2 linked regions of the Homo sapiens genome follow. The protein of the gene in region 2 purifies or fractionates together with the protein of the main gene of each other region. This does not show direct contact. Each region holds a gene or a part of one and is shown on either strand. Other genes may lie near its edges. The genes, in order: KATNIP and KRT84.

Evidence for each region.
Region 1: the proteins of KRT84 (region 2) and KATNIP purify together in Homo sapiens (tandem affinity purification; one large-scale study listed by IntAct). This does not show direct contact.

The regions. Positions count from the first base shown.
Region 1 is NC_000016.10:27,548,898-27,553,260, reverse strand, and holds the start of KATNIP (katanin-interacting protein), read right to left. Parts: upstream 3,118-4,363; 5' UTR 3,091-3,117; coding exon 3,084-3,090; intron 1-3,083. Other genes in the region: GTF3C1 (general transcription factor 3C polypeptide 1), read left to right, coding at 3,371-3,591. UniProt on the Homo sapiens protein: May influence the stability of microtubules (MT), possibly through interaction with the MT-severing katanin complex.
Region 2 is NC_000012.12:52,379,715-52,382,701, forward strand, and holds part of KRT84 (keratin, type II cuticular Hb4), read right to left. Parts: intron 2,819-2,987; coding exon 2,723-2,818; intron 1,812-2,722; coding exon 1,647-1,811; intron 1,492-1,646; coding exon 1,366-1,491; intron 870-1,365; coding exon 649-869; intron 194-648; coding exon 162-193; intron 1-161.

The sequences.
Region 1 (4,363 bases), on a different chromosome or scaffold from region 2:
AAAATGAAATAGGTGGTGATATTAACAAATGTGATTTTTTAAATACCGTATAATGGCATCTGAAAGGTCAACGTTTAGATTTGCATAACTCACTGAACCAACATTTTCTAAACGACCAATGGCTGATGTTATAAAACCATATATGGGTAAAGCAGCCAATGAAAGGGCAAGATAGACCAATGGATTTTAATGTAACACAGTATAAAAGTTCACCTATAAGGCTTCAGATGACACACTGTGACTAACATTTAAGAAACTGCCACTTGTGGCCTGGCATGGTTCTTCATGCCTGTAATCCCAGCACTTTGGGAGGCCAAGGCGGGCGGATCACCTGAGGTTGGCAGTTTGAGACCAGCCTGACCAACATAGAGAAACCCCATCTCTACTAAAAGTACAAAATTAGCTGAGCGTGGTGGCACATGCCTGTAATCCCAGCTACTTGGGAGGCTGAGGCAGGAGAATCGCTTGAACCCGGGAGGCGGAGGTTGCGGTGAGCCGAGATCAGGCCATTGCACTCCAGCCTGGGCAACGACGGCAAAACTCCCGTCTCAAAAAAAAAAAAAAAAAAAAAAAACTGCCACTTGCAGGCCAGGCATGGTGGCTCACGTCTGTAATCCCAGCACTTTGGGAAATGGAGGCAGGCTGATCACCTGAGGTCAGGAGTTTGCGACCAGCTGGCCAACATGGGGAAACCCCATGTCTACTAAAAATAAAAAAAATTAGCTGGGCATGGTGGTTCACACCTGTGATCCCAGCTACTCGGGAGGTTGAGGCAGGAGAATCGCTTGAACCCAGCAGGCAGAGGTTGCAGTGAGCTGAGATCGTGCCACTGCACTCCAGCCTGGGCGACAGTGAGACTTTTTCTCAAAAAAAAAAAAAAAAAGAAAAAAGAAACTGGCATTTGCTAAATTTTGTATAGTATGAAAGGAGAGTGTCTACAGTTATCTGAAAAGGCAATTAAAATGTTTCTCTCTGCTCCAATTATATATTTGTATGAGGCCAAATTTTCTTCATACACACCAGCCAAAACAGCATAACAAAAAACAGTTTGAATCCTGAAGCAGAAATGAGAGTAGTTTTTTCTATTTCTATTGAATAAACTTGAAAAAACATAAAATAATGCTACTCTTCCTATTAATTTTTTGGAGGCAAATGTAATTGTTTTCCATTAAAAATATTATTTATGTTCAGAAGTAATGGGTTTATTGTTGTTGGAGTTTTTTTGAGACAGGGTCTAGCTATGTTGCCCAGGCTGGTCTTGAACTCCTGAGCTCAAGCAATCCACCCACTTCAGCCTCCCAAACTGCTGGGATCACAGGTGTGAGGCACTGCACATGGCCAATTATTATTATGATTATTATGAGCCACTGCACCTGGCCAATTATTATTATTATTATTGGGTTTTTTTGAGACAGAGTCTCGCCCTGTTGCCCAGGCTGGAGTGCAGTGGCAAGATCTCGGCTTCAAATGATTCTCCTGCCTCAGCCTTCCAAGTAGCTGGGATTACAGACATGTGTCACCACGTCCGGCTAAGTTTTAGTAGAGACAAGGTTTCACCATGTTGGCCAGGCTGGTCTCGAACTCCTGACCTCAAGTGATCCACCTGCCTTGGCCTTCCAGAGTGCTAGGATTACAGGCACGAGTCCATGCCCGGCCCAATTTTTATTATTTTTAAAGGAACTAATTAATGGACATCTTAAGATTTTCCCAGTTTAAATCTTCGATATGGTAAATATCATAAATATAAATAAACAAAGCTCTTTGAGGTAAGAGCATACAGGGGTCCCAAGGCTTAAAAGGTTTGAGGACTGATGTTCTATAGCAACATTACATTGACCTTTCCAGAAGGCAAAATGGTAAAGCACATTTTATAGTACCTCTAAAGTACAAAGGGAAAAGATATATTTTAAGCATATGACAGAATGTTCAATTAAAAACATTTTCTCCACACTACATTCAGTGAATATAAAAAGAATGTGGATTCCCCAGGAACAAATTCCCGAGAAGTGAGGGACAGTGCTGTAATTAGAAAAATGATCTGGACTCTAGCCCAGACCCTACCAGTCTCTCTAGACTTTAGTCTTCCCATCTGCAAAGTGAGATATCAGAATAGCCTATTTTCCATTTGCTTCCAATTGTCAATACCATGACTCTAATCAGGGATCCCTAAATGGGGGCCCACAAGCTGTCTCTGGCCTTCAGAGTGACTGGCCAACCCTGTTTTTGAGAAGTACCCCAAGAGGACAATCAGCTGGTGCTTGGTGAGCAGCTTTCCTTTCAGGTGAGGAATTGATTTTCAGTTACAGCCTCAATCCGGCTCACTAGACTCTCCTCTGCAGACATCTGCATTTACAACCTCTGGAATAAAGGGACCCTCAAAACCGGTCCAAATCTCAAGCTCCATAATTCAGCTCCAGAGACAGGGTGTCTGGGTTTCTCACTCACTCTGCTACATGCTGGTTGTTTGACTTTGGGCAAGTTCCTTAACACCTCTGAGCCTCAGTTTCATCATCTGTAAAATGGAACAACGCTGAACTCAAAAGGCTGGTATGAAGCTTAGCGAGGTGTTGCCCAAGAGTACTTACAGAGTTCTTGGTACTGGAAAGCACTTTGTTAAAGGGAGCTATTATTATTAACGCCAAGGCACAGAAAGGGAGTATTTCCTAAACTCCCTTCACCCCCCACACCAATTCCCTTTCCCAGCACCTGACGATTGCACTCCCACGATCAAGCTTGTTTTCATATCAACTCCCAAATCCGACAGTTCCACATCCCAACATTCACAAGACCCTCCTCAGACCTCTACTTCTCCTTCCCCACCCTACATCCCTTCACTGAGCTCCCGGCCAGTACCGGTTTCCTTCACGACCACAGCCGAGCAGAATGGTCACAGCACTGACCACTCCCCCAGGCTCTCCTCCGCGTTCCAGACCACTAAGCCTCCCTATCCCTCATTTCGGAGACCCCCTTGGGTCAGGAAGTGGTGGTCCAGGGGTTCATGGCCTAGGATTCTGCCCAAAGCGCGGTCGGGAGGGATGGGAGAATAACAGCCCGACCTCCCGGAGGGGCCCACAGACACTCACCGTCCATCCCTAGAGGCGGCGGTTCCGGGAGCTCGAACCGGAAGCGGCCTCTACACTGTTTGCAGTTCCCCTGGTTACTGCGGGGCCCCGGACCAATGACGGTGGAGCTCCACTTACTGAGCCCGCCCCCGGGGAGTGACGTCATGCCGGCGCGCTGGAACTCCTCCTCCGAACCCTGGGTCTGACCCACCTCCCCGGGCCCCGGATCGTTGTGCGCAGGCGCGATGGACCAAGGCCCTTGGCGGTGCGTTGCGCATGCGCCCCGGGCGCCGCCGACTGAAGTAGCAATGGACGCGCTGGAGTCGTTGTTGGACGAAGTCGCTCTGGAGGGGCTCGATGGCCTGTGTCTGCCAGCGCTGTGGAGCCGGCTGGAGACGCGAGTGCCGCCCTTCCCGCTGCCTTTGGAACCCTGCACGCAGGAGTTTCTCTGGCGGGCCCTCGCCACGCACCCGGGCATCAGCTTCTATGAGGAGCCTCGGGAGCGACCCGACCTACAGCTCCAGGACCGGTCAGCGGGCGGCCTGGCCTGGCGGGCGGGCGGGCGGGCGCAGGGCCCGGGGGCTGATGGAGCTGGGGGCAGGGCGGGGGAATGGAGTGGGGCTGTGCAAGTACCGGAGGCCTGTTGATTGAGTTGGGGCACGGCGGTAAGGCTAATCTGGGGTCCCTCAGGCCTGGCAGGGCCCTGGAGTCCGATGGAGTTGGCGGGGGGAGGGGGAGAATCTAGTGATGTCCCGTTTTGTCCCTGTGTGTGTTTTGGGGTAATGGCGAACAGGATTGGGGATATTCTTCAGGCTTAAAAGAATGTTTCCTTTACATTGGAGGATAGGATTAGAGCAGGAAAGACACTTTAGAGCCAGACTGGAGACTCCTGAGATCAACAGACCCTCATGGTATATTCATTCGGTGCAGATAGCCTAGGGCAACTCGAGATCTGCGTATCAGGACAATTAGCGATAATGCTAAAAGCTGACATTTATCAGGGACTTCATGGGTGAGGTGCTGTTCTTTTTTTTCTTTTTTGAGATAGAGTCTCTCTCTGTGGCCCAGGCTGGAGTGCAGTGGCGCGATCTTGGCTCACTGCAACCTCCGTCCGCCTCCCAGGTTCAAGCGATTCTCGTGCCTCAGCCTCCTGAGTAACTGGGATTACAGGCATGTTCCACCACGCCCGGCTAATTTTTGCATTTTTAGTAGGTATGGGGTGTCATCATGTTGGCCAGGCTGGTCGCGAACTCCTGACCTCAGACAATCCGCACCTCTCGGCCTCCCAAAGTGCTGTGATT
Region 2 (2,987 bases):
TAAGAAGATGCTCCCCATCCAGGGCTGGATGGTCCCAGCTCCCCTGACTGTCGTGGCCAGACCGGCCATGTCGGACGCCTCCTGACCCCAGTGTGAGCCTGAGTTTAAAGGAAGTTTGAAGAGGAGAGAAATGTGTGAAGAGGAAAAAACAAGTTTCTTACATATGTTTACTGGTCCAACACCTTCACAGAGCCTGGAAAGGGGAAGAAACAAATCATTTCACATGCACTATTGTTTCCTGAAAACCTATTTGCCATAAAAAGGGCTTTCTTGTTTGAGTAGATCTGTGGAGCAGTAGTTCTCACCCCTGGTTATACACACATCTGGGGAGCGTTGAAAAACACGTTCTTAGACCCTATCCCAAAACCATTAGATTAAAATATTTAAGGAAATTTATCATTAGTAGTAATTTTAGCAAAATTACTAATGATTCTGGTGCAGCTTATCTAGACTTGCATTTGAGAATCACAGGTCTAGAGCCTTCTTCTGATTCCCTGACAAGGGCAATGCAACTAATGTTTGCAGAGAAGGTATTGTCATCTTTAAAGACTATGTATTTCTGCAGTTCTTCACTGTCCCCTTCTCTTCCTTAGTCTTTCTAGATGCCTAAGTCTGACTTCACTCTCCTGCTGGACTGAGAGTACTCACCGGCTCTCCTCGCCCTCCAGCAGGCGCCTGTAGGTGGCGATCTCGATGTCCAGGCCCAGCTTGGCATTCATCAGCTCCTGGTACTCGCACAGCTGCCGCGCCATGTCCTGCTTGGCCTGCTGCAGGGCACACTCCAGATCTGCCAGCTTGCATTTGGCATCACTGAGGGTCGCCTCGCCCTGCTGCTCGGCCTCGGCCACTGCAGCCTCCAACTTGGCACGCTGCAGGGAAGGCAGTTTGCAGGTAGGCTTCGGCAGTGCCAGGGCATCCCCAGGTTGGGTTAGAAACACGGCCCCTCTTAGTGGGAACATAGCCTGGGGCCAAGGCAGGGATGGACCCCATGGTGGCTGCTTTCCCAGGCACTGGAGACCCTGTAGTTTGATGTCACTATGGGGTAGGGCATTGCTGTTGTTTCCATCCCCACTGACTTTGTCACTGCTGATTTCAGCTGCCCCAGAGTCATGGCATCTAGAGGGTAAATTTATTCTTTCTGTACCACCTTCCCTGCTGGGTCTGCTCTAGCCCTTTACTTCTATGTGGGAAGCTCTCCTTCCCTTCCATATTTTTATCCTCCAGAAAGCCTTCCTGGACTGATCCCTCCATTCCTTGGTTTCTGGGTCTTGATGGTCTCCCTCACCTCATTAGACTTGGGGGTTCCCAAAGCCTGAGGCCCTGGTTCTCCCTCATCTGAGGCTTTCCCTCCTTTCCTTTGCCCACCTGAGCCTTGGCGTGCTCAATCTCTGCCTTAAGCCTCTGGATCAGGCGGGTCAGTTCGTTGATCTCGTTCCGTATGTTGCGCAGGTTGTCACAGTGTTGGCCAGCTGTCACCTGCATCTCTTCATACTGCGGAGAGAGGAGGGTATTTTGAGGGTTCGGAGGTCAGGTCAGGATCACAGCCCCCACTGAGTTGGGGGCTTCAAACCTCCCTGGGCCTGATCTGTTATATATGAGTCATTCCCAGAGCTGCCTACATCCCTTCCCCAGCCTCCACTGCCCACCTTGGTCTGGTACCAGGCCTCAGCATCAGCCCGGCTGCGCCTGGCCACCTCCTCATACTGGGCCTTGACCTCAGCAATGATCCCATCAAGGTTCAGGTCACGGCTGTTGTCCATCTTCACAATGACCGACGTCTCTGAGATGTGCGACTGCAGCAACTGGATTTCCTGTGTTGGAGGATTGGGGAGACAGATGTGCTTAGAGTCTCATTTAGTAGCTGGGACTCTGCCACAGGGGGCCCAGGAAGTGGTGCCAGGGGCAGAGAGCATCACTCATTGGTTCATAAAAAAGCAAGACCATCTAAATTGATGATAAAGAAAAAGACATGTCTGAGAACCATCTCAGGCTGACTTTAGAGCTCTTGTGATCTACTCAGAAACATCCCTTTAACACACTACTTTGCTCAGTAAGTATTAAAACCATGGGGATCTAAGAACATGGTGGAAGAAAGTGGGAGCCACTCTAGGGCTTAAACTTTTCTTAGATTATCTACAAAGTGGCTGGGCTGGTCACAGACCGTTGAGACCTGACAATATTTTAGCACATGGTGGTCTAGGAATTCCTATATCCCAAGCCCTTAATAGAAGAACTGAGGGGCTTGGGACTGGCCTGCAAAGAGAGTTCCAGAGGAGGCTTTCCTCAGCCTCTTCACTTAGAGCTAGCAATTCAGCTCTGGCTGGGCCTATACCAGACTGGACAGATTGTTTATGAAGCAAAAGACAGCTGGTTTGGCTAATTAGGTCAAACACATTTTTTCTTACCTCTCCTGGCAAATCAATTTTTCAGTCTTCTTGTCAGTACACAGGAAGTGACATTTCTAGATCCCAGTCTTTAAATTGGTAAATAAGGAGTTGGATCATAGATCCAAGGAGTTTGACTTGCATCAGGCTGCTGAAAAGCCTGCTCACCTTCCCTTCCCCATTTGAAGACATATTGGCATATATAGCATACAGATTTGAGTGAGAGGAAAGATATATGATAGCAAATGTTTGAAAATATGCTAGCCCAGGCTAAGCATTCAGGGAGTCCAGGCCAAGCATTGATCTCCTTGGGTGCCCTAGAGAAGATGAACCCTCACCTCCATGTAAAGCGTTTTTAGAAAGTCAATTTCCTGAGTTAGGGTATCCACGTTGGCCTCGAGATCAGACTTGTTCATGAAAGCTGCATCCACATCCTGTATAAAACAGAGAAGGATAAATACTCATCGCCTGGGCACTGTTTCACCTTCCCACCTGTGTCTGGAGATGGGTGCAAAGAGGCAGCCACTTCCCACAGATGGTAAGGTCGCTGGGTAGAAGTGAAGCTCAGCAACTTTTGCTCATTTCCCTATTACAATGCCAACA